Linked DNA regions of Homo sapiens. The protein of the gene in region 4 purifies or fractionates together with the protein of the main gene of each other region. This does not show direct contact. Each region holds a gene or a part of one and is shown on either strand. Other genes may lie near its edges. The genes, in order: XIAP, FBXW8, TRIM47, KLHL2, SIPA1L1, TRIM9 and FBXL17.

Region 1 (4,318 bases), on a different chromosome or scaffold from region 4:
CACTGCACTCCAGCCTGGGCGACAGAGCGAGACTCCGTCTCAAAAAAAAAAACAGAAATGTTAACTATAGAATGTTGAAGGGGGGGGGGGGATTAAAACAACCTGTAGACAATATGATCGTCATTATTCTATTTCATAAATTTTCTATAATAAACACATATCTCTGGCCAGGCACGGTGGTTCATGCCTGGAATCCCAGCACATTGGGAGGCCGAGGCGGGCAGATCACATGAGGTCAGGAGCAAGACTCCGTCTCAGAAAAATAAATAAATACATAAAATAAAATAAGCCAGGTGTGGTAGCACACCTGTAGTCCCAGCTACTTGGGAGGCTGAGGCAGAAGAATCGCTTGAACCTGGGAGGCGGAGGTTCAGTGAGCCAAGATCTCACCACTGCACTCCAGCCTGGGTGACAGAGCTAGACTCTGTCTGAAAAATATATATATTATATATGTAATATATTTTACATATTATATTGTGTTATATATTATATATATTTTACATATATTGTATTATATATTATATATAATATATTATACATGTAATATATTATATACTATATTATATATATCATACATTATTATATACATATTATATATTTTGATATTATATATGATATATCATATATTATATATTAATCATATATAATATATTGTATATAATATAATTTATATCATATATATTATATATCATGTATAATATATATTATATAATATATATAGAAACACATATTTCTTTTATAACTTAAAATACTCAAAGGCCGGCACAGTGGCTCATGCCTGTAATCCTGGCACTTTGGGAGGCCAAGGCGGGCAGATCACATGAGGTCAGGAGTTCAAGACCAGCCTGGGCAACATGGTGAAATCCTGTCTCTACTTAAAATACAAAAAAGGCTGGGTGTGGTGGCTCACACCTGTAATCCCAGCACTTTGGGAGGCTGAGGTGGGTGGATCACGAGGTCAGGAGTTCGAGGCCAACCTGGTTAACATGGTGAAACCCCGTCTCTACTAAAAATACAAAAATTAGCCAGTTGTGGTGGCGTGCGCCTGTAATCCCAGCTACTCGGGAGGCTGAGGCAGGAGAATTGCCTGAACCCAGGAGGCGGAGTCTGCAGTGAACAGAGATCGCAGCCATTGCACTCCAGCTCTGGGCGACAGAGCAAGACTCTGTCTCCGAGGGGAAAAAAAGAGATACCAAAAAAAAAAAAATTAGCCAGGTGTGGTAGCACACGCCTGTAATCCCAGCTACTTGGGAGGCTGAGTCACCAGAATTACTTGAACCCAGGAGGTGGAGGTTGCAGTGAGCTGGGATCATGCACTGAACTCCAGCCTGGGTGACACAGCAAGACAATGTCTCAAAAACAAATAAATAAAATAAAATATTCAAAATACCCTTTTATTTTTTTTGAGTCGGAGTCTCGCTCTGTAGCTCAGGCTGGAGTGCAGTGGCGCAATCTCGGCTCACTGCAAGGTCCGCCTCCCGGGTTCACACCATTCTCCTGCCTCAGCCTCCCAAGTAGCTGGGACTACAGGCGCCTGCCACCACGCCCAGCTAATTTTTTGTATTTTTTTTTTTTTTTAGCAGAGAGGGGTGCCAGGATGGTCTAGATCTCCTGACCTCGTGATCCGCCCGCCTCAGTCTCCCAAAGTGCTGGGATTACAGGCGTGAGCCACCACGCCCGGCCTTAAAATACCCTTTTTATGTTTTGAATTCAACACCTAAAATAACATATCAAAAATGTGAACATGTAAAGAAAGATGGGGTCATTGACATGCACAATCCCACAGCTAATTGGAAACAAAGTCAATAACCTGTACTGTGGTACCCAACGTAGGGCTCTTTCCAAACACTGTAGCACATGACCTCTAAGATACAGAAACAGTATTTGTTAAATTCTAAAGTATTTTTTATCTTATCACTACTGTTTGTCTCTTCATATCTACTCACACAATGTCCTTTAATAGTGCTAACAGGTTACATTTTATAAAACTATTACCAGATTATCTCACAGAGATAAAGCTTGAGAATTGACAGCTCATGATAATCTCCCAGCCTCAAAAGAACAATGGAAAAACAAACAAACACACAAAAGCAAAATAAAAACAGACGAACATAAAAAAGCAAAAAAAAAAAAAAAAGAAGAAAGGCGGCCTGGTGTGATGGCTCGCGCCTGTAATCCCAGCACTTTAGGAGGCCAACGCAGGCAGATCACGAGGTCAGGAGAATGCGACCATCCTGGCTAACATGGTGAAACCCTGTCTTTACTAAAACACACACACACACACACACGGTGAAACCCTGTCTTTACTAAAACACACACACACACACACACACACACACACACACACACACACACACACACGAGAATGCGACCATCCTGGCTAACATGGTGAAACCCTGTCTTTACTAAAACACACACACACACGGTGACACCCTGTCTTTACTAAAACACACACACACACACACACACACACACACACACACACACACACACTCTAAGCCGGGTGTGGTGGCGGGTGCCTGTAGTCCCAGCTACTTGAGAGGCTGAGGCAGGAGAATGGCGTGAAGCCGGGAGGCAGTGCCTGCAGTGAGCCAAGATCGCGCTACTGCACTCCAGCCTGGGCAACAGAGCCAGACTCCGTCGTCTCAAAAAAAAAAAAAAAAAAAAAAAAAACAGAAGAAAGGCATTTGTTTTGCCATATTTATCCTTGGAATCCTACCACATACTACAATGAATGCCTGGAACACATTAAGTGCTCAATGAATGTTTATTTCATAAACTGTAGGTTTTGCTCTCTGCTAATACTACCTACCAGACTTAAATATTAGACCAAACAAAAACAGTGAAATATCATTATTTTATCGCTAAACATTTACAATATAAATACAGGATTTACTAAAGAAATTAATGTTTACAATGAAATAAAAGGAGAACATTTATTTACTAAATTAGTAAATTTATTTAGTAAAATTTATGTTACTAAAATATTTTAAGCACTATACAAATTAGCTGGTCCATTAATTATAATAATTTTGAGAAACTGCTCACTTCCTGAAAATGAAAAAAAAAAGGAAGACAAAATAAAATAAAAACCAAAGAAAAAAATAATAATTCTTAACTATTGAAATGGTCCTGGCTAACCTTTAGATATTATTACTTTGTCAGCCTAGTTGGAATCATCCAATGCACTAGAAAGCAATAAAATTACAGGTATAGTACAAGGGCCACTAGACTAGAACCTAGACTCTAGTCCAAGCTTTGCTAATAATCAGATATATTACGGTGGGCAATATTTTTTTTGAGTCTTAATCTATTTCTAAAAACGAGACAGCTGGGCCAGGTGCAGTGACTCACTTTTTCACCTGAGGTCCCAGCACTTTTTCACCTGAGGTCGGGAGTTTGAGACCAGCCTGACCAACATGGAGAAACCCCGTCTCCACTGAAAATACAAAATTAGCCGGGCGTGGTGGCGCATGCCTGTAATCCCAGCTACTCGGGAGGCTGAGGCAGGAAACTGCTTGAACCTGGGAGGCAGAGGTTGAGGTGAGCCGAGATCGCACCATTGCACTCCAGCCTGGGCAACAAGAGTGAAACTCCATCTCAAAACAAAAACAAAACTAGACAGCTGAACTCCTAATCACTATAAACTGTTTTAGTCTTAACTTTTTATTTGTTTTTGAGGTGGAGTCTCACTCTGTGGCCCAGGCTGGAGTTGAATGTTGCGTTCTCAGCTCACGGCAACCTCCGCCTCATGGGCTCAAGTGGTTCTCCTGCCTCAGCCTCCCAAGTAGCTGGGACTACAGGGGTGTACCGCCACACCCAGCTAATTTTTGTATTTTTAGTAGAGATGGGGTTTCACCATGTTAGCCAGGCTGGTCTTGAACTCCTGACCTCAGGTGATCCGCCCACCTCAGCCTCCCAAAGTGCTGGGATTACAGGTGAAAGCCACCGCACTTGGCCCTAGTCTTAACTTTTTTAAAAAATATGTTCTTATCTACAAAGAGTCTACAATTCAGATTTTTGTTTCTTTGTTTTGTTTGAGACAGGGTCTCACTCTTTCGCCCAGGCTGGAGTACAGTGGCCCAATCATGGCTCACTGCAGCCTCCACCTCCCAAGGCTCAGGTGATCCTCCTGCCTCAGCTCCCCAAAGTAGCTAGGACTACAGGCACAAGCCAGCACGCCCGGCTAATTTTTGTATTTTTATTAGAGAGAGGGCTGCGCCATGTTGCCCAGGCTGCAGATATTTTCCTTGTGTCAATTTTTTTTTTTTTCGGGACAAAGGTGCACTGTTGTCACCCAGGCTGGAGTACAGTGGTG
Region 2 (4,318 bases), on a different chromosome or scaffold from region 4:
TAGGAAGATACACTGCCAAGAGAAGGAAAGCAAAAAGCTTGGTCTGTTCTAGATAATAGGAAGTTATAGGAAATAGGGCTAGATTTACGGATGATCAATAGAAGGGGAATTAGCATTGATAGATTAAATATGTTTTATAACACAGCAGGAACTATAGACTGCATAAAAATAAAAGACAGAAAGGAATGGTCCATCTTCAGTGCTTCGTGTGGCCGGTCTCCTTTCATCTGCCTCACAGTCCTATGTAGTAGGTAATGTTGTCTTCAACTTTACAGAAAGGCTAACAGGCTCAGAGCTGTTAAGCAGCTCCCCTAAGTCCGTCAGCTAACAAGTGCTGGAGCTGGATTTGAACTCAAATAGTCACAAACTGTTATCTCCACACATTTATTTCTTGGTGAATTTTGAAAAATTGAATCAATTGGAATTGGAGCAAGGCATTAACCAGCCTAATGCAGAGAGTAATCATTTTCTTGGGTAAATCTTCGAAGGGAAGGAAATAGCTTGGGAATGATAAAAAGAAATTATTTTTGAGGAAAGAAGAATCAATGAAATGCTAAGTACAGAAAAGGTTATCTGACTGGAAAAGCATAAGCTCCTGTAGACCACTGGTCCTAAACTCCAGTGGACATCCCCAGAGTTACTGGTGCCTGACAGTCTGCATTTCTAATAAGTCGCCACGTGGTACTGATGCTACCGGTCTGGAAACCACCCTGGAGAAAGGGTGTGTGGCCAGTGTGTGAAAGAGGAATTAATCTGGGTAGCAGCATTCCAGGTGCTGGGAGAAGAGTGGAAAATCGGCATTTTTGGCAAGTGTGGGATATTGAAGCACAGGTTTTAGAGCTGTGCAAAATAAAGCACTGCTGCTAACAGAGGCTTTAGGAGGATGGCGCTGAGGAAGGATGTGAAATTCAGGCTGAGCATCCCTAATCCAAAATTCCAAAATGCTTTGAAACTGTTTAAGCACTGACATGATGCTACATGTAGGAAATTTCACATCTAACTTCATGTGATGGGTTTGTAGCCAAAACACAGCCAAAACTTTGCTTCATGCACAGAATTATTTAAAATATTGTATAGACCAGGTACGTTGGCTCACACGTGTAATTCCAACACTTTGGGAGGCAGAGGCAGGAAGATTGCTTGACCCCAGTAGTTCAAAAAAGCAGCCTGGGCAACATAGTGAGACTGTGTCTCAGCTAAATTAAAAATTAGCTGGGTATGGTGGCACACGCCTGTAGTCCTGTCTATTTGGGAGGCTGAAGCAGGAAGATCACTTAGGCCCATCAGTTCAAAAATGCAGTGAGCTATGATAGCACCACTGCACTCCAGCCTGGGCGAAGAGTGAGGCACTGTTTCTAAAAAATAAAAAAGTAAAATAAAATATTGTATAAAATTACCTTCAGGCCATGTGCATCAGGTATATATGAAACGTAAGTGATTTCGTGTTTAGACTTGGGTCTCATTTCCAAGGTATCTCCGTTAAAAAATTTTCCTTTGTGTTGCATGTTTTTAAAATAATTGAACATATTAAGTAAATTTAAAATTGTTACCTGCATTGTTTCTTGCTGCATAGGGTTTCTTAATATTTGGGATTTAAGGACCGGAAAGTACCCTGTTCATCGTTTTGAGCACGATGCAAGAATACAGGCACTAGCCCTCAGCCAGGACGATGCAACCGTGGCCACAGCTTCTGCTTTTGATGTCGTGATGTTATCCCCCAATGAGGAGGGGTACTGGCAGATAGCTGCGGAATTTGAAGTTCCGAAACTGGTGAGCTTTTTAGTCTGGTCATCTTATTTTCTATTCTTAGAATCTCTGGGTCTAATGTAAGCACGTACTAATGGTGTTGGTAACTCCCATTCACTCAGAGCTTCCTGCGGGCCTTACCTCCATAAGTCTAACTACAGCCTTACAAAATAGGTAGTAGCATTTTCCCCATTTACCAAGAAGCCACTTCAGGCTGCTTAGAGCAGTGAACTGACTTGCCCCAGTTCTCAGAGGTAAGAAGTTACGATTCAAACCTCAGGGCTGACTTCAGGGCCAGAGCTGCTCATCACTGTGGTTCCTTGGCCTTCTTCAGACTAACACGGTGGAATCTCACCCTTGGGAATCAAAGATCAGTTTGACCTAATATATAAGTGAGAATGAGTTCAGTGGTGTTATCCCAGTCCATCTGGGAAGGAAGGTTTCCATTCCTACACTTTCTTCATCCCAAGACTGTCTCACCTGAAATTTAAAGTAACTCTTGCGTGAAGATAGATTTAAGTTGGTGTTAATTGGGTAGCCATGTTCCAGGATGTCATGTGTGCAGCTCAGCCAGCCTTAAGAATTCTTTATGTCGAGCTTATTTCTGAGTTCATTGGTACAGGAACCTCTAGATTTGTAGAGTGGGAGATGATTTGGTGTTAAGAAGGAAGTGCTCAAATCTGTCTATGCTGAGTTAGGATTTAATTTAAACAAACTTGATTTTGGCACTGGTAGGAGAGTGAGCAGAAAAGCCAACACTGAGTGATGAATTGAGGGCCTGACCTGGAACCAATCCTGTTCCTCCCTCTTTCTGTCTGTTGGGAATCTTCTTAGACTAGAATAACTTAGAAAGCCATGGCATCACTGCTTCACCTCCAGGAGCGTCTGCACTTTGAGTATAGTGCTCCCCTAAAATGGCCTGATGCTGTCAGCTCATCTGGGTTTTATTAGAAAAATGTGAAAGTACATTTCTGTTCTCAAAACTTCCATAGTACTTACTATTTAGTCTGTGATTAAAGAATACTGTGTCACAAGGTCAGGAGATCGAGACCATCCTGGCTAACACGGTGAAACCACGTCTCTACTAAAAATACAAAAAATTAGCCGGGCGTGGTGGTGGGCGCCTGTAGTCCCAGCTACTCAGGAGGCTGAGGCAGGAGAATGGCGTGAACCCAGGAGGCGGAGCTTGCAGTGAGCCGAGATCGCCACTGCAGTCCAGCCTGGGCAACAGAGCGAGACTCCGTCTCAAAAAAAAAAAAAGACAAAAAAACAACAAAAAAACGAATACTGTAGACCAGCAATCACTGTATGGACCCAGATACTTACTTAAGATGCCAGTTTCTCTGTAAAGTGCAAATCCTGCCTTGGCAATAAGGTGGCATCCTGGCACAGACTGGAAGCTTTTTGAACTAGTTTACAGCCCCCAGCAAATGGCACCACCACTGTCAATCTGAGCCTCTTGGTCTGTCAGAAAGCCAACACGGAGATAAAGTTAAAGGGCTAGACGGAGGATATCAGTTGTAGGAAAATGAGACATGATTTGGGGGAGTGAGAGGAACCGAGCAGCCATTGTTCAAGGCGGGTTTTATGCACGTTTTAGGAATTATTTTTCACTTTGAGTGAAAGGTTCCCACAAAATGCTCTGAGTATCCTTGGAAAAGGCACCCCTGGCCCGAAGAGCCAAGCCAGTTTTGTCTTGTCCATATACGCCCCTGAATGGCAGTGGCAGTGTTCCCAGGTCTGCGATATTAGCCTAGTGCGGCTGTCCTTTGTGATGGACCCGCAGCTTGCGGAGCTGGGCCCGAGTATTAGCAGAGTCCCCCGGATGTTGACGCTCCCTCCAGCTCTTCTGGACCGTGTTCTGGAGGCCGGCTTTGAACTCTTTGGCATATGGTCAGGGCAGCGCTGTCCTTTCACACTGTGGATTTTCATAATTAGTGTGGCTCACCTTCTATGTGTCCTCTCGTGATTTACTCGCAGAGGCGAAAGCCTGTTGCGAACGGCACCGCGGAGAAATGGGCCGCCTGTGGATGGACAGAATCAAATTATTCTTGAAAAGTGCGTCTCAGACTCGTGCACATTAGAGAAAGTGCCGGCGGTGACGCAGTCAGGACTGGGGAGCGGGGTGGGTAGAAACATGCGTGTTTGTAGAGCCTTCCTTACCCTCTGGTGGCCAAATGGACCCTGATGACGTTGAAACCAGGAGACAGCAGATCACTTGGATATTTTTAACCTTTTGGCCACACATTTTGACACAAATGTTAAAATTTTTTTTGCGAATTTGGAGCTGAATGTTATTTATTCAGTTCATTGTAAACAAACAAACAAACAAAAAACACAACAAAACCAAAAAAACCCCAACCTTTTATTTTTTGAATTGCTATTACATCCCCATGGTTCAGAATTTAAAAGACACAATAAAGCTGATGGTGGGAAATCTCCCCATCTCATAATCCACTTCCCTCCTTGAAGGCAGCCATTGTTAGAAGATGTATGGATGTGCGAGTCAAGCGCATTGTGTACTTTCTCCACCCCCACCTTGTACACATGTCAGCAGGTGGGGTTACCTAAC
Region 3 (4,746 bases), on a different chromosome or scaffold from region 4:
GGCCAGGCTCAGAGGGCACGGCCCCTCCCCAAGTACCCACCCCCCCAAAACACAGCCTCTCCCCTGCTTTCCAACCGGCACAACCCAGCCCCGCCGGGGACCACCCCAGGAGCTGCCCTAGCTCTCCCCACAAACTGGGGAGAGGAATCCTAACCCTTGTGTGCCAGGGCCCTGCTGGGACCAGCCCAGCAGCCCTGGGAGGGCCCAGTGTGAGTGGAGGGGGCACGGGCGTCCACTTACACTTGAGGAAATAGTCCCTGGGAGCTTCACTCTCCAAGAGGTTCGTACTCTCGAGGTCTTGGGGCTCAGCATCAGCTGTAGAAGAGGAGACAGTGGTGAGAACGCCCCCAGACTGCCCCCCTCTGAACCTGTGACTACAATCCCTACCCCCTTCACTTCCTCCCAGAGTCCAGAGCCACCAGGGAGCAAGCACCACCCAGATGTGGCACGCTGTGCTCACACACATGCCCGTTGCCTGTGTTCTGCCTCTTGCCCCATGTGCTTCCCGGGCCACAGCCCTCTGGAGCTAGAGGGTGGGCTAGGAGAAGCCCCCTCTACCCCAGGTCCAAGGGGCTGATTGATCCCCACAGGGTGGCAGCTCTAGTCACTGGCAGGATTTGGGCTCCTCCCTGTGCCAGGCACAATTTTCCTCCTCCACTTCTGGATGGGCGCCAGGCCTGGGGGCCTGTGCGAGAGGCTGGCAGAGGGTGAGTCATCGGGGGGGCGTGGGGCGGTGCCCACCTTCCGAGTCCAGCTTCTGTGGCCCATCCTCGTTGCCACCCGGCCCCCTCAGCTGCTCCCACTGGTTGACGCAGGCCACGGCCAGCATGTCTCTCACTGCACGGACAGCTTGGGATGATTTGGTGAAGCTGAGCTCCCTCGGGGGTCCAGGCCCAGGGCCACACCCATCCTCCAGGGCCAGCCTTAGTGCCAGCAGCTCCTGTGCCAGACAAATGCCCATTAAAGTGCTGCTGGCCATGGCTCCTCCTTGCTGGGGGTGGAGGCAGCTCTGCCAGGAAGTCATGCACCCACTGCCTCCTCCTCCCTCCACCCCACCTGTCCCAGCTTCTGTTCCTTCCGTGGCCCCCAGAGCGGCCTTCACCTGCAGGAAGCTGACTGAGTCAGCTTCAGGGACCTGGCTGAGATTCTGGCGGGCTCGGCTCAGGCGGCTGCGCTGTTCCTCCTGTCGCCGCAGGTCACCCTGGGAGCGGCCTAGCATGGCAGCTTCCCCCTCCTCGATGAAGCCCAGCACCTGGGTCTGGAAGCCCTGCAGGGCGGCCGCAGCATCTGCAAACAGCCGGCTCACCCTCTCCCGCTCTGCTACGGCTGCACTCTGCACAGGACGACAGTAGAGGGGGCAATGAGGGCAAAGAACCGTCCCGGACTGTACCCCCCTCCTTCCCTGACCCCGGCTTCCCACCGGCCCTCTTGAGGGGACAGAGGGGCCAGACTGAGCCTGTCCTGGATCTGGGCCAGGTCAGGGGACACTTGTGCTCAGTAGGTATGGGCATGGTTTGTTTGGAGTGGATTGTTCCATGCTGAGGGAGGGGTGTTTGACCTTGATGAGGGCCACTGTGCGCCTGGACTGTGCAATGCCAGCACCCAGCTCGTCCATGCGGTCCTCCACGGCGCTCAGGACTTTGGACTGCTCAGCCTGTGGACAACACCCTCCATGAGTGTGAGGTCTGGCAGAGGCCACAGCCCTACACTCGGGTCCCAGGCCTTGCCAGGGGAGAGAAGGGGGTGACTGGGGAGTGGTATCTGTGCATCAGGTGGGACTGGAGTGGCCACGATGTCCCATAATATGCCAGAGGTGCCTGCAGCCCAGGCTGGTGCCTTTCCTGAACGCCTGGGGGGCGTGCAGGCTGACTGGGTGTCTGCCTCGGGTCTCTGACAGGAGGCCTAGTACAGGGCCGTCCGCTGGTCTCAGTGTTGCTCAGATGAATTTGAGAACTTCCTCCGGCGGGGAAGAGGCAGAGAGTAAGCCAGTTAGGTTGGGAGGTGGGCGGCGGAGGGGTGACTGCACAAGGAGGCATTAAGCTGTCCTGAGGATCACTGTTCCCAAAGAGCCTGCATCCACAGTCCAGGCCTGGAAAAAAGGGGATTCCGGGCAAATCCCCTAGGTCTTATGAGTCACTGCTCCAGGCAGGAGAAACGGAAAATCCCTTGGCCAGAGGCGCCAAGACCGGGCTGGAGGCCAAAGGAAACTGGGGGCGGGAGGTAGAGGCCGCGGCTCACATGCTCCCACCACTGGCCCCCGGAACAGCTGGACAGAGAATCTGTGTGCCCGGTCGCCCTCTGCCGCCCTCCTGCCGCCTGCCACACCCATCGAAAGCTGCTGCCTCAGCCCAGGGCAAATCTGAGCTGAGACCGGCGTGACCCTCCGGGCGGGAGCAGCAGCCACGCTACCGGAACCCCGCGGGCCTAACCCGGCTCCCTCCCGCCTACACCCCCATAGACCCCGGCCCGGCTTCAGGTCCCCTGCCCGCTCTTCGCGTCCTTGTCCTGTTCTCACGTCCCTCCTTCCTCCCTTCCCATCTCCATCACCGCCAGCAGATGACCTTGTCAAGGCTGGAAGGGACCGCAAAGATCCTCAGGTTAGAGGAGGAGATTAAGACCCAACCCGGGAAGACTGGGGGGTCCAAGGTCCTCGGCCCGCTCGCGCGCGGTCGGTCACCAGCCCCGGCTCACCCGAGTGTGCCCCCGGAGCCCACCTCCTGAAGCGCGCGCTCCTGCTCCAGCGGCACCAGCTCGTGGCCGCGGTGCTCCTGTGCGGCGCAGGCCTCGCACAGACACACGCGCTCCGCGCGGCAGTAGCGCTCGAGCGGCCGTAGGTGGCGCGGGCACAGGCTCTCCTCTAGCCGGCGCAGCGGCGGCACCAGGCGGTGTCCGCGGAGGGCGGGGCTGCGCTCGTGCGGGCCCAGGTGCGCGGGGCAAAAGGAGGCGAGGCAGGAGAGGCAGGACAGCGCGGCGGGCAGGGCCGCGCCCTCGGGGCACGCGTCGCAGCGCACTGGCTCTTCGCCCGCGGGCCACGGCTCGGGAGCGCAGGGGGCCGACGGCTCCGGGACACTGGGCAGCGCGCTGGGTGCCGAGGGCTCCGGGGCCAGGGCAGGGGCCGGGCCGGGGCCGGACCCGGGGCCCGAGCCCTGGCGGAGCTGCAGCAGCTCGGACAGCGTGTGGTTCTTGCGGAGCTGAAGGCCGTCGGGGAAGGGCTCCTGGCACAGCGGGCAGCGGGCCGCGCCTCCGGGTCCGCCGGCTCCACTCGCGCCACGATGCGGCCAGAGCGCGCCCAGGCAGGCGAGACAGAAGTTGTGGCCGCAGGGCAGCGTCACCGGCTCCCGGAGTGGCTCTAGGCAGATGGGGCAGCTGAAGGGTCCACTGCCGTCCATGACTCCGCGGCCGCCCAGGGCGCCGCCGATTGTGCTCCGGCCTGGGAGGGACCCGGGCCGTTCGCGCCGCGGCACCTCCCCCTGGGACCTAGGCCAGGGCTCCGGCCCCCGCCCGCCCCCAGCTCGGCCCGCCCCGCAGCACCGCCCGCCTGCGGGCCCGCGGACTCCCAGTCCCCGCCCAGACAACGCAGGGAGGCCTCCGAGCCCGCGCGACCCCCAGGGGAGTCCGCGTGGTCCTAAGGAAGGGCGCTGCTGAAAGGGTGTGAAACTGAGTGAGCGCGGGCGGAGAACGCGAGAGGTACAGTGGAAGGAATGGGAAGGACTCAGCCTCCATCCCTCTGGTCCTTCTGGGCCAGGCCAGCGCTCCGCAGGGGCTGGGCGCGTCTAGCTGTGTCATGCCTGCACCTTTGCGCTCGACCCCTCCCTGGCACCCTTAGCAAAGTTCCTGAGCTGCTGACTGCAGAGAAAAATAACTGCTGATGTACATATGTTTTTGCCCCTTAGCGACTCTTTTTTTTTTTTTTTTTGAGACAGAGTTCCTCTCTTGTCGCCCAGGCTGGAGTGCAGGGGCGCTATCTCGGCTCACTGCAACCTCCGCCTCCCGGATTCAAGTGATTCTCCTGCCTTAGCCTCCCAAGTAGCTGGAATTATAGGCGCTTGCCACCACACCAGGCAAATTTTTGTATTTTTTTGTAGAGACGGAGTTTCACCTTGTCCAGGCTGGTCTTGAACTCGTGACCTCAGGTGATCCACCTGCCTCGGCCTCCCAAAGTGCTGGGATTACAGGCGTGAGCCACAGCGCCCAGCTCCTTTAGCGACTCTTTACCCCAAGTAGGGAACTTGGACTTTTCTAGACCTGAAATGGGAAGTTGACGTCATTCCCTAAGTCCCTTGTCTGAGGAATGTAGTTCTGGCCCCTGGACACTGGGGACACCTGTGGTGGGGTTGGGGGTTCCCCAACTGGAAGTATTTAAAGCTCATCTAATTATGCACTTAAAGTGGTGCGTTTTATTGTATGAGTTATATCTCAATAATGTTAAGTTAAAACACTACACCAGAATGACAACAAAATAAGTAAAGTAGCACTGATTATAACCCAAAGTGTAAAATAAACATCTATGAGTCCATGCCGATATAAATAAATAATAAATTAACAAGCTGGGGAGAACAGACATATTTCGCATTGAAAATTCCAAATAATGTTTTTTTATTTTTATTTTTTTAGATGGAGTTTCGCTCTTGTCGCCCAGGCTGGAGTGCAGTGGCGCAATCTCAGCTCACTGCAACCTCTGTCTCCTGGGTTCAAGCGATTCTCCCTCCTCGGACTCTTGAGTAGCTGGGATTACAGGCGCCCGCC
Region 4 (4,318 bases):
CTTATTGGGTAACTATGAATAAATTTTATCTTCATCATGCCCTCTTTCCTCTCCCTCCTTCAGATTAGAGCCAATGTCCTTAACTGTGTAAACTTGGCCAAATTTTAATAAACTGTGTAATTAAACTTCTGGGCACTTCAGTTTCCTGATAACTTTGGGAGGTTATCATACTTCTTTTAGTTCAGTCCCTTCTCCAGACCCAGAGCCTTTGGTAGGGGGCACTTCATAGATTGATTCATTTATTTTCTTCCTCTCTGTGACCTAAAATTCTCTAAACCTTGGTAAGCATACTATGTTACTTCTAAGAGATGGCATATTTGTAGTGTTATTTTGTGGGTAGAGAAAGGAAAATGAAAATTGCAATGGGCAAGATTCCCACAATGAACATTCCCTGGAGTTAGTTATGATTTTGGGATACAGGATTGTTTCATGCTGAAACATGCTGCCTGGTATGTTGCTGCTCACGAGTCTCCAGGCCCTCTTAGGATGTCTGTTAAATTCTGTGCTAGCAGGGGGCCAAAACAGGCAACTTCATCTGAACTGGAAAGGTCTTGTTGCCATATGGAGGACTGCATTTCCGTGTATTTTTACAGGGGTGGGGGAATAAAGCACCAGAGGTTAAGACAGTAAGGGGCAGAGGTACATCTCTTGCCTGATAACATCTGCAAAACATTGAGCTCGTCAAACATATCTGGTGATTCCAGTTCTCCCTACAGGGATTCAGAGAACTGTGAGCCACATTGCCTGCCCTCAGGCTGGCACAGGGACATAAACATTATAGAACTAAGAACAATAAAAATTTGAACAATTTAAAGTAATTATATTATAGACGGTACATTTATTAAACCTGAAGTACACAACATAGATGTTATTTGCTATAGGGTTCGGGAGCTGGACATAATCCCTTTTAGGCTAAAGTGGACAGGGAAGGCATCATAGAGAATGTGGAACTTTAACTGAGGATTCAGAGTTAAAGAGAACAGAGTAGATGGTGATAGGAGCCTGTCCGATTAGGACAGCAGCATGAAAAAAGTTGAGAAAAGTGAAAAGATGGTTGAAACCTGAGTCTAGCAGTCTAGTTTCTCCATTCACTGATTCCGTAATATCTCTTTAGCCCAAGGATCAGCAGACTTTCTCTTGAAGGACCAGAGAATAAGTATTTTAGGCTTTGTGGTTATATGGTCTCTGTCACAGCTTCTTATCTACTGCTATAGTGCAAAACCAGCCATATGTAAATGAATGAGTGTGGCAGTGTTCCAATAAAACTATATTTATGGATGGTGAAATTTGAATTTCATATAGCTTTTTACATGTCATGAAATATTATTCCTCTTTTGGTTGTTTTTCAGCCATTTAAAAATATAAAAACCATGCTTAGCTTATGGGTTCTACAGAAATAGTTCGCTGGACCAAATTTAGCCTGTAGCTGTAAATTTGCCGACCCCTGATTTAGCCCACTAACATGATAAACTAGGAATACGTTATGCAAATAAATTATAAGCGTATGGAGTTTCATTCTAAGAATATCCACTAGAAGATCCAAAATTGAAAGCTATGGGAGGTGAGTACAGGTTCAAGTAGTTGGAAAATAATGGCTCATTATTTAAGCTTGTAAATTGATATTTAAAAAAACCAAGAGTCAACATGGTACTTTAGCCCATGCCATTGCATTTTTTAATAACCTTAGAAAGAAGGCCAGGTGCAGTGGCTCACGCTTGTAATCCCAGCAGTTTGGGAGGCCAAGGCGGGCAGATCACGAGGTCAGGAGATCAAGACCACAGTGAAACCCCATCTCTACTAAAAATACAAAAAATTAGTTGGGTGTGGTGGCGGGCGCCTGTAGTCCCAGCTACTCAGGAGGCTGAGGCAGGAGAATGGTGTGAACACGGGAGGCTGAGCTTGCAGTGAGCTGAGATGGCGCCACTGCACTCCAGCCTGGGCGACAGAGTGAGACTCCGTCTCAAAATAAAGAAAGGAAGAAATAATAATAATAATAACCTTAGAAAGAAAGACAATTTAGTGATTGGATGTTCTTGCAAATGAATAGCATTTTCAAGGATTTATTTAATCAGGCTCCTCCTAAGAGTAGCATGTTCTGACAACAGCTATAGATTTATCAGAAAGCAATCTTTGGATATTGGTGGTAGTTGAGTTGCATGTTGATCATTAAATGCTGTACTCCTTTTGCAGGCATGGTCTACATGGCTGGACTTGTTTTTGCTGTTGGTGGCTTTAATGGCTCATTAAGAGTTCGCACTGTAGATTCCTACGACCCTGTGAAGGACCAGTGGACCAGCGTTGCTAACATGAGAGACCGGAGAAGCACTTTGGGAGCTGCTGTGTTAAATGGATTATTATACGCTGTGGGAGGCTTTGATGGGAGTACAGGTAATTTCCTTTTCATTTATTCTACATTGCTGCTAAAATTAACGTAGTAGTCATGTTTATGGAATAAATTGTGGCAACATTAGGGCACATGTGAGGTTTTTTGTGTTTTTTTTTTTTTTTTTGAGATGGAGTCTTGCTCCGTCGCCCAGGCTGGAGTACAGTGGCGCAATCTCGGCTCACTGCAAGCTCCGCCTGCCGGGTTCATGCCATTCTCCTGCCTCAGCCTCCCGAGCAGCTGGGACTATAGGTGCCCGCCACCACGCCCGGCTAATTTTTTTTGTATTTTTTAGTAGAGACGGGGTTTCACCATGTTAGCCAGGATGGTCTCAATCTCCTGACTTTGTGATCCGCCCACCTCGGCCTCCCAAAGTGCTGGGATTACAACATGTGAGGTTTTAACTGGTATTTAAAGATAAGTTTAAAATTTTATCAAGAATTTCCTTAAATGATATGAGTGGTGAGTATATAAATTTTCTTTCTTATGCATCAGTATCAGTCATCAAATTTTAAAAGCTTATAAATATCAGTAGCTTAGGTAGGAGCCTTCTGGAAAACAAGCTGTACCTGTTTTTCATGTAATTGCTGTGTTTATGTTCCACCATTTTCTTCTCTTAATTTTAGCCCAGTATAACATACCTGAAGTATTTTTCCATATATATGAACTATTGACATTTTTTAGAGAAGGAAATGAAGACTATTGTGCTTTATTATAGGTTTGTCATCTGTGGAAGCATACAACATAAAGTCTAATGAGTGGTTTCATGTAGCTCCCATGAATACAAGGAGGAGCAGTGTTGGTGTGGGTGTTGTTGGAGGTAGGTGTTGACAGTTCTTTCAGGTACATGTGGCATTTTGATCCTTGAGAGTGGTTCTTCCAGTAATCTCAACTTTAGTTTTCTGAATGGGCAAGCTAATTATCATTTTAAAAAGAAAAGTCGTAATTACTGTAAAATTTCAGTTATCCTCTTTTTAAAATTAGCTTCTCTATATAAATCAACCTATATAAAGCCTTTTCTCTCCCTCTCTATCCCCCTCCCTTTATCCCTCCTCCTTTCTCTCTGTGTGTGTGTGTGTGTGTGTGTGTGTGTGTGTGTGTTTGACTTATATAACTGTGTGTGTTTGACTTATATAACACGTGTGTGTTTGACTTATATAACAGCAGTCCCCAACCTTTTTGGCACTAGGGACTGGTTTTGTGGAAGACAATTTTTCCATGGACAGGGGTGGGTTGGGGGGATGGTTTTGGGATGAAACTGTTCCCACCTCAGATCATCAGGCATTAGAGTGTCATAAGGAGTGCACAACCTAGGTCCCTCAAATGTGCATTTCAAGATAGGGTTCACACTTCTGTGAGAATCTAATGCCGCTGCTGATCTGACAGGAAGTAGAGCTCAGCTGTAATACTTGCTCACCTGCCGCTCACCTCCTGTTGTGCAGCCCGGTTCCTAACAGGTTCCAGACAGGTACCGGTCCATGGCCTGCGGTTTGGGGACTGCTGCTGTATAAGACTGTCAACTGATTTTAACAGTTGCTTGGGGGAACAATTCAGGTGACATAAATGTGTAATTTTATATCTGGAGAAGGGCTGTTAAGGGATGGATTGCCACAGTTATTTATTTATATCCTACTTTGTCTCCCAACAGAAGTTAAGGAAGGCTCTAAGTATTATTATTATTATTTTTTTTTAATTGACTTGGGCAAATTTGCAGGTTTCCACCCCCTCCTCATCGTAGGTGTAATCTGTGCACTTAGAAAAAAACAGCTTTATTGTGATATAATCCACATCATACAATTCACCCATTTCATGTATACAGTTCATTGTGCATCCATCACTGCAATTCATTTTAAAACATTTTTATTATCCTCTAAAAGCAATCCTGCTTCCCTTGGCTCTTACTCGTATCTTACCCAACCTTCAGCAACTGCTAGT
Region 5 (4,318 bases), on a different chromosome or scaffold from region 4:
AGGTGGCCTTTAAATTCTTGCCAAATACATGTTTGGAAAGATGCTGCTGAACCAGCACTGAGCTGACAGGGCGGCATTGTCTACAAATCACGGCTCTGACACCGGAGGACGACCTGCACTTGCTGCACTCTCCACTCAATGGTAACAAGCACCTACTTCCACGATAATTAAGCATCTCCCTAGTCGGCTTCCTGCCTCCAAGGCAGGCGCTTTCATTTCTCTTGCAGCACACAGCATCACTTTAGAAGACTCGCTGCTATTTAAAGGCTGGAACATGTAGGGGTGTTTCAAAAAAAAAAAAAAAAAATGCATGCTGCCTGCAGAATGCAGGGTGAGGCGAGCTCTGGCTGGGCTCGTGCTGGCTGAGTCTGTGGAGCCATTCAGATAAATGCCATTTGTTTTCACTAGCACTCCTCTTCACCATCTTTTGTAAAAGGGATAATAGTTTTGCACTGCTACCTAATTAAACATGGCTTTTGAGCTTTCTAGATACTTCTACTGTCAGACTGCTATTATTCCCTTTACATTCCAGAACTTTACATGTTCCTCTTTCAATGATAACCCTTCAAGTGACAAAACATGCTAACTGTTGCTTCCGAGGATATCAAAGGACAGCATATATGGCCATAGCAAAGGTTCAAGAAGTGATTCTCATAAAATGGAAGGAAAATTGAACAACTGAACCAAAATGCAAACACCTGTTCAACATCTCCCCAAAAGCTGATTATTTCAATGAATACTCTACATAGCATAAATAATACTTCTAAAGTAGATTTTATAAAAATTAGATGCTTTCAACATTTCTCACAACCTCACAGAAATCCAAATAAATCATCTTTCATTCCCCAAACATTCATTCTCTAAAAGGACAACACACCAATCCCACCATGATAAAAACTCTTGCCACATTTCATGTGCCTTAGAAAATACTTTACTGCACAGCTGTCTTTCCCAGGATATGTGAAGTTATTTCCATTAGAGGAGGAAACTAAAAGCTGGCAGTAAAATACAAGAAATAAAACTGACTTGGAAATGCTCAGTCTCCACCATCAGTATTTCTCTTCCAAACCATCTCATATACTTCCAATATTTTTAATGAGTTTATAAAATCTTATTTTTAAATATAAAAATTTCTTACCAATTCAAAAGAAATTTCAAGACTCCCATTACATTATATAACAACGACTCAATGTTTTCTTTTCATTTCAAAATATAAATAAGCACATGGGAGAGAGAGAAGCCACGTTTTAATGGCTTGTAAAAACTGATGAGGTTCGAGATGGGCAATTATGTTAAATAACAGATTTTTTTTCAGTCATAAGGACCTTCCTTTTCTATGTTTTTTTTTTCTCCCTCTCATTTTCCATCTCCCTCCCTCCCTCCCTCCCTTTTCTCATTCTTATTTATAGCATCAAACCCCTTTGGGGTACAATATAAACTTTGGGCACTGACTAGCATATATGGAAATATACATGCTTTGCACTTATTAAACTACCAGTCAAAAATAATGCTGTCCATCGATGTGTATCATATGATGACAGATCAATAATACCTTCACATCTATTCCTTAGGGTTGACTGAAACAGCAAACCTATGTTGACAATGATCAGCAACTCTCTTAAATATCAGCAAACCTGCCTAAGTACCAATATGGTAAAAAGCAATAGAATTAAACAGAAGAGCAATACGAATTCACAGCATGTCACCTCCATCTGTTGAAAGAGCAGGCTATATAAAAATTTTCCTTATTACATGTTTAATTTTACAGCTCTAGATACTATCTAAGTCTATGGTAGATCCAGGTAGCTAGAATACTAATTCCATCTAGAGGGCCCACAGTTTAGTTCAATGAGTTCAATTCAACTAGTTGAAAGTCTTTTCATCACTCAAGATCTCTCACAACCTAACCCACCATTCTTCCAGAAGAAATGCTTCCTCCTCTCATCCAAATCACCCCCTGTGTTTCTGTAGTGTCTTCAGAGCATGGACCATACATCCACCAGTCCCTCCTTCAAGGAAAGCTCCAGGTGTAGCAGGGAGACACAGACAAGTAAGAAGATGACGGGGGATGCATGGGTCATGCCTCCTTCCTATACACTTTCCATTTTGATTGTAAGCTCTTTAATAACAGAGCTTACAATCTCCTGCTGGGACTAATTGTACCACAGTAGGTCAGCCATTTAGAATATCAAGTCCCTGAGAATGCTGAAAGCAGAACCTCTTATGGGATCTCTTGATTGCCAAAAATCCCTTGTCATTCTGGCTCTGTGAAGCATCTGTACTCCTGAACCCATCCTCCATCCTGAACCTCTCTTTTCTGGACCTCTGTGATAACCATGTGCTTCTTCATTTTCTCTTGCCTCTTTTTGCCCACTACTCAGTCTTTAGTTGGGGTCCATTGAAAAGGTGGTGTCTATGGTTTATCTCTCTTGACATTTTTCATATTTCTGGAAAGGGGTATAAAAGGTATTTCTATCAGGATGCATGTGAGCACTGAGTGTATTAGGATGAGACAGAAGCATGGGTCCACTGGAGTAATAATATCACTGTGGAAAGCAGAGTGTTGATTGGGCTGGCTCACATTTGTCTGTGCAGCTGAACAAAGGCAGAATAATTAAGTTACTGGCTGGAAATCTGCATGGCAACCAGTACTCTGTCTGTTGATACTGTAGGTGCCTGCAGCTTTAAATATCATCTCTATGCTGTTACCTCCAAATCTCTGGTCATGATCTTCTCCACTAAACTTCAGATAAAATAGAGGTAGGTGCTCATTTGACATCTTCTTTATTTACCTATTTTACAATGAAATAACCAACAAGCAGAATAATGAAAAAAATTTTTTTTCAAGAAATGATTAAGTGGTAAGGAAGGGAGCACATTCTATTCCTAATTCAAGGAATAGAATGAAAGAAACAACATCGTGCCAAGGGCATAAAGAGCAGTTTAAAGGTTACAAGAAGAAGATGTGGGAAGGGGGTGGGGTTGGGGGAACACTACAGTTCCTGTTGTGAAAGAATTACAGTGCAATATGGTAGGGTCACCAGAAAGATGTAGCGTTCCTCATAAAATACTTCCACATTCCAAAATGAGATCTTCTCAGATTCTTTAACTGGTACAGCCTAAAATACAACGCCAGCTCTCAATGTTTCAGGGCAGTAGAAGGAACTGTGCTGATGAATAACTATTCAAATGCCCCAATAATTCAGAGATATACACTTCAGAAGTATTTATGAAAATTTCCAGGCCCAGCACAGTGCCTTGTGCCTGTAATCCCAGCACTTTAGAAGGCCAAGGCAGGCAGATGGCTTGAGCCCAAGAATTTGAGACCAGCCTAGGTAACATGGTAATACCCAGGCTCTTAAACAAACAACAAAAAAATAGAAATAGTTTTTGAACTTGTAAACACAGACTTAGAATGCCTGTAAATATTCTTACTTCAGAATGTAATAAAACACTATTTAAAAACAGAAATATAACTTCACAGTACTTGAATATTAGATGAGCTAAGATAATCAAATAAGGCAAACTATTTTCTTTACATCCCTTCTTGGCTTTCCTGAATTCCACTCACATTACATAAAAGTTGCATCTCAGACAGAAGGGATGGCTCACTCTTTCAAGTTAGCCTGAAACACATCTTAGTGCAATGTCATGGATAATTTAAGATTTATGAATCAGCGTAAAACTTTTTAGAATGGAATTTCTACCTCCTTTCATTTCTGTATTCTCCCTTCAACAAAAAGCAGGAAGAGTTGAGAAAAACAGTTGATAAATCTAGTTCCTGCTCTCCTAATGTTCACTCTCTGAAAGAGACAACACTGATGGAAACAAAGTCGAGTCAAAAAAACTTTTGGTAAAATTAACAAAGTGAATAGAAAAGTTATAGATACAAAACATGTAACATGATAAAGCTGTATTTGAATTTAGAGATAAGAAAGCAACTTAAAATGTGCCTGTTTGGACACAGGAAGGATCAAAAAGGAAAATCACATTTCCCTCCCACTCACCCTCGTAGCTAAAAAAGTTCAGTGAAGAAAGTTACGCTTCTAAGGTTTTGTTAAGCTTGAATATAGTTTGTATAGCTGAAGGTGAAGGAAAGAACACAAAAGTTTGGCAGAAAGCTTGAGGGCAGAAGAATGATAAAGAATGCGGGAACAAGTTACGTGGTGGAATAATAATATTATTATTATTACTATTTGAGACAGGGTCTTGCTCTGTCACCCAGGCTGGTGTTTGGTTGTATGATCATGGCTCACTGCAGCCTTGAACTCCCAGGCTCAAGTGATCCTCCCACCTTGGCCTCTTGAGTAGCTAGGAC
Region 6 (4,318 bases), on a different chromosome or scaffold from region 4:
CGGTGAGGTGGGGGGGTGATTTCTTTGATTAAAATGACACCCCAAAGTGTCAGAATGCTTTGGCACCAGCCACAAATACCTCCTTGTAGGTTTAATTTCATGTGTCTTGCTTACTCTTAAAATGAAAATGTTAAAAGCCTCAGAGGTTATATCTGGCCATCAAATTCAAGCCTCTCATCTGAGACACATTACTTGTCTTTGATGACCAAAATATTTAAAGTATAGCTAAGAAGCAAAAATTCTCTAGAGATGAACCTTGTATGGTGGCTCTCGGTAGCCTAGCCAAGACTGAAGGGACTGGCAAAGATGAAAATGGCGGGTAATGCGAAGTTGCTGGTCTCTTCCTGTTTGGTGCCCACAGGAAGTCTCAATCCTGGTGCTGACGGCCTCCGCTTTGGGTATGAAACGGAGGCAGTCTAAGTGGGTAAGCCAGGAGCAGCCAACAGGCCCTCTCTAAACAGCTCTAGCACCCCACCACCCATTTGAAACACATTCAGTCATACAAATCCACGACTGGAAAGAACCTAGGTCCCACCCTCAGAACAAGCAAGTACTACAGAGTAATTTAGAATCATCTGGGCAAAACTGGCACATGATGTGTATCGGTGGAGAATGGGAGCCTGCTCTAGAGCCTAGATACATTTGTCTTACACACCAGGGGCACATTCAGGCCTTCATTTTTCAGCTTCTTCAACTGCAGCTTATTTAGATTGTTATCAAAGGAAGCCGCCGGCCCAAGCCATTGGAACTGCCGATGTGGAATCTTTGGTTTGATCACATCCACATACCATAGGCTCTCTAAAGGCAGGAGAGGAACAGCGGCTCTGTGCAGAATGCAGAGCAAGTCATGGAAACACTTCAGGAATGTGGGCAGTGGTGGGGTTACCTCCGGGCTTGCCAGCCACTTTAGATGCCACGCAGTTCTCGCTCTGAGGGATACTGCTGAAGGGCCTTACCCTCAGACGTTTGGAGGACCAGGGTCTTGCTGTACGGGCTGACTCCTGTTTTGTTGAAGGCCTTGACCCGAGCGTTGTATGTGCTGTTGAAGTGAAGACCATCCACAGTGCACATTGTCTCCTTCCCCACATACACCTCCTGAGAGTCAGCAAAGAACAGGACAGCACTTAGCCTGCCCCCTTCTGAGGGGCGAGGGAGGCAGTGTCGCTCAGTGGTTAGGAGCAAGAGCCCTGGTGTCATTCTAATCTGGATTTGAATCCTGTGAGATATTGGGCCATTTAATTTACCTTTTTAGCCTCAGTTTCCTAATCTGTAAAATGGGATAATAATATCCACCTTATGAGGTTGGTGTGAGGATTACTTAATGTTGTATATGCAGATTAGCGTCATGCCTTGTATTTAGCATGGGCCAGGCAGCCTAATGAATGGTAGTTATTAGCAGCTAGGGCTTAAAAAAAATAAAACTGAGTGCTTATAGTTCAGATTACACTTATTAACTTGGGATTGGTACAGTATATAGCCCCTACTGAGCTCCTTATCCATCAGTATGGTTTGTAAAAAACATGTTTGAAACCATGAAAACAGGAAGGTGGTCTCTATCCTATGTTTAGAACTCCGCTGATAACTTCAGAACTGTCACAGAGATTACACTCCAAGCCACCGGGGATAGGTTTTCATCACAGTACAGAGGGAAGGGGGAGGAAACAGGGAAAGGAGGAAGAATGACATTTCAAAGGCTTAAAATAAATCCTAGCATAATGCGTCTTTAGCATAGGTTAGGCATTTGCCTCCCTCTTCAGCTGTACACATTGCAAAATTATGCTGATGTAATGAATAAAAATAATTTGCATTCAAAGCACAGCCTTAATATGACAACTCTCTGGTAGGATACTAAGAAGACCACGGTCTTGGATCACCCATCAATTCATTACTCCTGCTGGAATAACAAAAATTGGAATATTATGTCCTCTCATTCAGTGCTTCTCAAACTTTACGTGCATATGAATCACCTGAGGATCTTGTAAAAATGCAGTTGCTGATCCAGTAGGTGTCTGGGGTAGGGTCTCGATTTTGCATTTTTAACAAGTTCCCAGGTGAAACCAATGCTGCTGGGGGAGGACCGCACTTTTGAGTAGAGGAAAAAGTCAAGACAAAATAAGATAATTATTTAAAGAATTGGGAAAACCGGGAGAGTTACTTTCCCAGGAGAAAAAAAAGATAATAAAGGGAAAAGAAAGGCCCTGAAAATGACACAGGCACTGAAAAGGCAAAGTCAGGAATGAGAAACTGACAAATAGGATTTTACACACACACAACACACACACACACACTCTCACACACACTGCAAAAGACATGAAATGGAACCTGAGGCCCTTATCTTGGAAAGAAAGAAATTAGATTTTATCATGCCAATAAATCAACATATATGTAAATAAGGCTTCTCTATCAAAAGAGAGAACCTTTGTCCTTGAGGAGAATTGTAGAAGACAAGGCCCCTGCTCTCAAGTACTTAAACCTAGTGGGGGATCAAAAACACATTCAGGAAAAGGGGGCCTTGAGAGGCTTTGCTCTTGAAAGCTAGTGGCTCAGGTTTGGCTATTGGTGACCAGAAGAAAGCCTCATCCTCACGGGCCTGAGGTTTTTTTAGACAGGGGTCTCCTCTTCATCAGTGCAGGAACTGGCCTCAGTCCCCAGAACGGCTGCTCCCTTAGGAAGCTCCAAGCATCAGAACTTCCAGGCAAGACTAGGGTGGAGAGGATGGAAAGTAGGGTGGCAGGGAGAGGATGGATGAGAATGAAGCTCTGTATGAGAGAAGCAGACACATGCCGGCAGGTGGTGGCACATGAATCATCAATCTGGTGGTACCACAGCTGTGTCTTACCAGGAGGCCATTCTGTCCTGCCTTCAGAGGGCAGCATGAGCTTCTCAATGGGGATAGGGCTCCCTCACCTTGGGAAGGTAGCAATCTTCTGGTACCAGTTCTATCTGGTGAAAGGCCCAGAACAAAACTATAGAACTGGGGAAACCTTTGCTAGAAAGGTTGCTTAGAATAGGGAAGCTATAACAGGAGACCATGTCAATTAAGAGGAATGCCAATCAAAGACATTAGAAGCTGTGGATTGCAGAAATAAATCTTGGACAACGGTTAATTATATTATTAGCAATAAGCAATGATGGTAATAATAATAACTAATAATGAACGCTTGCTATGTTCTAGGCAGCATGCTAAGAATTTTGTATGAATTATCTAATGGACTCTTAGCAACAAAGCATGAGATTCACGCTATTGTTATCATCCCTCTAGTTAATAAATGAGGACCTGAAGACTCAAAGGGGTGATAATTAGGCATTGTCCACATAGCTAGGGTGGAGGAGACCAACTTGAATGCAGGCAGTCTGACTCCAGTACTGCATGTCCTGTCTCATAAGAAGGGTAGGGCAGTTTCAGAGACTGCTCCATCCACCTTCACGGTAGAGGGAGAAAGCAGGCTTCAGGTGAAGGGCAGGCAGGCCCTGCCAGGATGGCCTGTCCCCAGGAGAGATGGGGAAGCCAGCCCTGAGACTCCCTGGCAGGTCCTCTGACAGAGTCACTGCTTTGGGTTAACAAGTACGTAGTGGGCTGTCTACTGACCCGGAATTGACCACCGTTGCCATCATCCAGCTCCAGAATGTATCCATCGGCGGGCACCGTGGACAGAGGTGGCTGTTTCCAGGACAACGTAGCGCTGTTGTTGTGGGTACAACATTCCTCCAGCTGTAGGATAGGGGTTGCTGGGACTGGAGAGGAAGCTAAACAGAAATTAGTGTAACTCTGGCTTCTGTTAAGCTGCAGATATTCCAGTATCTTAGAATGACAAGCATCCCCCTGATAAACACGTGGTTAGAAGTAGCCAGAATGGGGTGCACAGGGGAACTGAACAGGATCCTTCACAGAGTCCCCAGGAGTCAGACTGGCTCCTGATTTGCTGTGAGGCCATTTTCTAAGCGCACAGTGGCCCTTCCCACCTTCATTGTGGCTGTTGGAGGGGAGACAGGCAGATTCACAGAACTGTGTTCTCATCCCCTTGAACATTGAAGACATTATCCCTAAAGGAAATGTTTTACATGGAGGCTGGGGTTCCAGTCCAACCCACTAAAGCATATTTAACTTATAACGTGCCTGAAGCTGTGCTAATAATTTTTTTTTTTTTTTTTTTGAGATGGAGTGTCGCTCTGTCGCCCAGGTTGGAGTGCAGCGGCACAATCTCGGCTCACTGCAAGCTCCGCCTCCCGGGTTCACACCATTCTCCTGCCTCAGCCTCCGGAGTAGCTGGGACTACAGGCGCCCGCCACCACGCCCGGCTAATTTTTTGTATTTTTA
Region 7 (4,318 bases), on a different chromosome or scaffold from region 4:
AGACTTAGCCATACCATTCACAACTCTGCCTTGGCCTTTACTTCCTGCTTGTACTGGACCTAGCAAGCACACAGTGATAAAGTTTACAGTCTTCTTAGGTCGTTCCTGAACAAGTGTCCTGCCCTGGGCATGCATGCGGCTTTCAAAATTCCCTTCTATACACTGAGGCTGATTGTCCTAATTTCAAAACAAAAACAAAAATAAAAACAAACTCTCTCCCAGGCTCTTTCTCCTAGGTCAATTGTATGTCTCACCATAATCTATTGCCCAAAGAAGCTTGCTCAAAAGCAAGTTTCTTTCATTTGCCTTATACTGTGTTCAATCAATGCCCACTAATTTTCCTCCCTGACTGGGTTCTAAATTAGGTAAAACAGATATATAAGCACCTGCATCAGCCCTTCAAATAGCTCTCAGGTAGGTTGATCAGACAAATGAATAATTTGCAAATAAGGTCTGCTCTGTTCCCTCTGGAACCAGGGATCTGGGTCCCACACTGGGAACTCGGACTGCTATCTTCAAGACTGTTGCCAAGCTGGGGAATGGGTGAGGCACAGGCAAGTAAAAAACCCACAAAGCATTCTTTCCACCTTTCAGTTGCATTTTTCTTGTCTAGCATTCCTTTGGTTGCTATAAACCTTTGACGTTTCCAGAGTTCTGACAAAGTTGGATCTGATAGTTTAGGCTTGTTTTTCAATGTTTTTTTGGAGAGGCAGGCTTTTGGAGCTGCCTGCTCCAACATTTTGCTGATAGTACTCTAAGTAGTTATTTTTAAAGACCTAAAAATTGATAGCATAGCCAGATCAAAATTTACTAATGTAACATTTATTATTTTTGTACCATTTTATCTGAAAAAAGCCTACAGTGACTTATTTACAGAAATTTCTACTGAGCTCCATGAGCTGGAGTGTTAAACTGCTAAAACTGCATATAATTGAGTCACATAATATAGTAACAATGCATACAATTTCTTAGATATATTTTAATACTTTGACTACTATTATCGTTTGTTTACTGGCAAGTGCTAGATGATAACAAAATATTAGGAAAATTGAAACAGCCCTTTATTCTTAAATAGATTTTTCCTCTAGATACATGATTGTAGTTTTAAAAGATATATACAATAGGAACACATTCCACTGGTAAAATTATTTTGAGTGACTATTATGAAAATAAAAATATAAATATTTCAGGGTGGTATTTCACAAAGAGGATAGTATTCAACCAAAACCAGCCTGATTTTTTTAGGTGCTTCACCATGCTTAAGAAATATTGTTAAGCAGAATCCAATAGTTAAAACATTAGAGTCTACATCTATTAGAGCTCCAAATTGAAATGCTATAAGCAACTGTTTTTGTAAACAAACTGACAGAATTCAAAAGGCACACATATTTGGTATCCGCTAAAGTCAATCAAAATTATAGCAGTTATAAAGAAAATATATTCTAAAGAAATTATCAATAAAATTTACATATATCATTCTAAAACATTTCTCAATTTTTACTGACAGAAGAGGGAAAAAACAGAACCCTGCAACAACTTAATCTGTAGAATCAACAATTCAGTCAATTGCTAAATTAATGAGTTCAAGAAAAAATAACAGTCCCAGGCAAATCATCAATTATGGCTAGTTCCCTCTTAGGCTTTCGTAACTCTATTATACATTTTAACATAGCACTGTCAGTTTACTAAAACCATAATATAAATCCATATTCGGATTTATGAAATATCACTAGGTCATAAAATTAATTTAGTGAGTGGGTCAAGGCCAACATTTAACATAATAGTATAGAACAGAATAGATAATATCCATGTGCATTGCACATAAGGATGTGTATTGTTTCATAAAACTTAATTTCTATTTTATGTATATATGAAAGCCATTCTCTTTCTACTATACCCATAACACTATTCCATCAGAGGAAAGAGTCTATTATGAAATCAGACATACCCAGCTATAGCGGTCTTAAGTACAGAAAAATATTCTCTACACTGCAATGAGATCCTATGTAATTACTTAAGAAGAAAACTACCTAAGGGGAAAAAAATTTGTTTTGCTACTTTTATCAGAATATTACCTCACGTGTAACTAATTCATAATTCAGAAACCATAAATATCCGAAGGAAACATCTAAGTAACAGGCTCCAAAATACCTCACATTCTAGAGAAGATTTACATAATTACTCTCAAAGTTGTAAATATAAGATAAATTCATAATACTTGATTAGCATATTAAATGTTGCTCCTTCTCTACTTCAACCATGACTACGATCTTATTCTTTTTCACAAAAATTACTAGGTATACCCTAAGAAGTCTGCTAAACTACTACCTATTTGTGTTATATCAGAATTAAATATGAAATAGATTTAATCCAGTTCTTAATACATACACCTTTTTAAAATGTTTCATTGTGAAAAATAAATTGCTGAGAAATTTCCATCAAAGTAAATAAAATCATGCTATATACACAAAATATATATTTCTTCATAAAAGATTAATTTAATATGTTTAAGAACTTCATGAAATGCTTTGCTAGTAAATAATCCTGTACATAGCAGAAATGAATCAAGAAAAATATTAAAACAAATAAGACTTTTTGCACAATATGCCTTTGCAAACAAAATAGGCTCCCTTATAAGTTGGTAACATTCTTAATATATAAGTTGTACTGACACACCCAGTACTCACTATTTAGGATAGAGTCTTCCCAAATTTCTTTTCATACCAAGCTTTCAGTTAATTCATACATAAGGTTTAAATTTAAGGATATTCATCTGTTGAATAAATAATCCACTCCGAGCCAAGAAACCTTAAATGCCATTTCCAAAGGAAGTATAATAAACAGAAGGTATGCATAATACTATTTTTAACCCAGTTATTGTACCAAATAGAGGTAATTAGGCCTTTGTTCTAACTTTTATAATCTTCAATTTGGACGTCCATTTATCCCTTAAACATTCAGATATTTAAGCATGTATGTCATCTAGTATAATAAAAGGGGAATTAAAATGTTAATTTTTAAAACCTCATGCTGACCAAAACTACGCAGTTGCCCAAAGCAAAATGTGGTAAAAAATTTAAGTAACAAAAGCATAAATTTATAAAATGGCTGGTCACAGAAGTTCAGGCTCTCACTATAAAACAAAGCAGTTAATTTACTGATTATAACCATGGCACTCTAGTTAACTAATCTAAACAAATATTCATTAATAGGTAAAAAAGATGATTCACTTGAGTCTCTGGGAACTATTTTTAACGTAACCATTTAAAATGTTGTTGCTAGAAAACATTTTTAATTAATTCAAGTAAAATCACTTTATAAATGCTAAAATTTACCTGCTTGAGTCCTTCATCAGTGAGTTTGTCCTGGTTGCCTACATGCACTTTCTGAAGTAAAGGACAGTGAGAGGCAACCGCAATAATAGAGGTGTCAGAAAGCTGTTTACACCTGTAGGCTGTATACCTAAGAAGTCCAGGACATTTAAATGCTAAAACACATACGCCATTATCAGACATACTGCGACAATCAGAAATGTTGATTTCAATTATATTCTGACTTCTTGATGCAATTTTTTCCAACAATTCATCAGTGACCTGTAAGAGAAAAAGCAATAAATTTAAACTTTTGCTAAAAATAAAAACGTATTTTCCATTTTTTAATTAAATGTTCCACAATAAACAATATACTAATTAGATTATAGCATGAACGATATAATCAAAAGAGAAACCGTCTTAACATTGAAGCATAACAAGAATTTGGTATAATAATAATATTGTAATTGGTCTTTGTCCTGAATTCTTGCCACATATTTCCCAAAACTCTTGGAATTTCCTAAGCAATAGAATTTCTTTAGTTATTCATAACAAGCCCTTTAGACCATATCTGAGTTCATACTAATGAAGTGACTTAGAGTGGGGCGCCTAGATGGCTTCAGAATGGGGGCTGGTTACCAGAAAAACTAAACCCTTGATTAGAGGGTGATAACTTTCAACACTACTTACAGGAGAGGAAGGAAGCTGGAGATTGGGTTATAAAAACTCAAATGACAGAGATTCAGATGGTAAACAACATCAAAGTGCTGAGAAGGTGGTATATCCCATACCTTGCCTTCTGCATCTCTTCCAGTGGGCTGGCCCTGAGCTATATCTTTTATAATAAACCCATAAATATAGTAAGTATTTTCCAGAGTTCAGTGAATAGTTGTGGCTAATTATCAAAACTGAGAAAGAAATTAAGGGAACTCACAAGTTTATAATTGGTCAGTGAGAAGTTCAGGTGGCTTCTGGGACTTGCAACTGATATCTGAAGTGTGGGTAGT

Evidence for each region.
Region 1: the proteins of KLHL2 (region 4) and XIAP purify together in Homo sapiens (affinity purification with mass spectrometry; 2 studies listed by BioGRID and IntAct, with this or other methods). This does not show direct contact.
Region 2: the proteins of KLHL2 (region 4) and FBXW8 purify together in Homo sapiens (affinity purification with mass spectrometry; 2 studies listed by BioGRID and IntAct, with this or other methods). This does not show direct contact.
Region 3: the proteins of KLHL2 (region 4) and TRIM47 purify together in Homo sapiens (affinity purification with mass spectrometry; 2 studies listed by BioGRID and IntAct, with this or other methods). This does not show direct contact.
Region 5: the proteins of KLHL2 (region 4) and SIPA1L1 purify together in Homo sapiens (affinity purification with mass spectrometry; 2 studies listed by BioGRID and IntAct, with this or other methods). This does not show direct contact.
Region 6: the proteins of KLHL2 (region 4) and TRIM9 purify together in Homo sapiens (affinity purification with mass spectrometry; 2 studies listed by BioGRID and IntAct, with this or other methods). This does not show direct contact.
Region 7: the proteins of KLHL2 (region 4) and FBXL17 purify together in Homo sapiens (affinity purification with mass spectrometry; 3 studies listed by BioGRID and IntAct, with this or other methods). This does not show direct contact.

Annotation. Positions count from the first base shown.
Region 1 is NC_000023.11:123,862,811-123,867,128, reverse strand, and holds part of XIAP (E3 ubiquitin-protein ligase XIAP), read right to left. Parts: intron 1-4,318.
Region 2 is NC_000012.12:116,983,633-116,987,950, forward strand, and holds part of FBXW8 (F-box/WD repeat-containing protein 8), read left to right. Parts: intron 1-1,550; exon of another isoform or gene 1,551-1,573; coding exon 1,574-1,770; intron 1,771-2,021; exon of another isoform or gene 2,022-3,705; intron 3,706-4,318. UniProt on the Homo sapiens protein: Substrate-recognition component of the Cul7-RING(FBXW8) ubiquitin ligase complex, which mediates the ubiquitination and subsequent proteasomal degradation of target proteins.
Region 3 is NC_000017.11:75,875,160-75,879,905, forward strand, and holds the start of TRIM47 (E3 ubiquitin-protein ligase TRIM47), read right to left. Parts: upstream 3,423-4,746; 5' UTR 3,390-3,422; coding exon 2,715-3,389; exon of another isoform or gene 2,692-2,714; intron 2,666-2,691; exon of another isoform or gene 2,562-2,665; intron 1,655-2,561; coding exon 1,559-1,654; intron 1,334-1,558; coding exon 1,103-1,333; intron 941-1,102; coding exon 742-940; intron 316-741; coding exon 241-315; intron 1-240. UniProt on the Homo sapiens protein: E3 ubiquitin-protein ligase that mediates the ubiquitination and proteasomal degradation of CYLD.
Region 4 is NC_000004.12:165,308,363-165,312,680, forward strand, and holds part of KLHL2 (kelch-like protein 2), read left to right. Parts: intron 1-2,190; coding exon 2,191-2,388; intron 2,389-3,101; coding exon 3,102-3,203; intron 3,204-4,318. UniProt on the Homo sapiens protein: Substrate-specific adapter of a BCR (BTB-CUL3-RBX1) E3 ubiquitin ligase complex that mediates the ubiquitination of target proteins, such as NPTXR, WNK1, WNK3 and WNK4, leading most often to their proteasomal degradation.
Region 5 is NC_000014.9:71,582,215-71,586,532, reverse strand, and holds part of SIPA1L1 (signal-induced proliferation-associated 1-like protein 1), read right to left. Parts: intron 236-4,318; exon of another isoform or gene 1-235.
Region 6 is NC_000014.9:50,997,094-51,001,411, forward strand, and holds part of TRIM9 (E3 ubiquitin-protein ligase TRIM9), read right to left. Parts: intron 3,748-4,318; coding exon 3,590-3,747; intron 1,096-3,589; coding exon 957-1,095; coding exon of another isoform or gene 907-956; exon of another isoform or gene 1-906. UniProt on the Homo sapiens protein: E3 ubiquitin-protein ligase which ubiquitinates itself in cooperation with an E2 enzyme UBE2D2/UBC4 and serves as a targeting signal for proteasomal degradation.
Region 7 is NC_000005.10:108,361,403-108,365,720, forward strand, and holds part of FBXL17 (F-box/LRR-repeat protein 17), read right to left. Parts: intron 3,594-4,318; coding exon 3,336-3,593; intron 1-3,335. UniProt on the Homo sapiens protein: Substrate-recognition component of the SCF(FBXL17) E3 ubiquitin ligase complex, a key component of a quality control pathway required to ensure functional dimerization of BTB domain-containing proteins (dimerization quality control, DQC).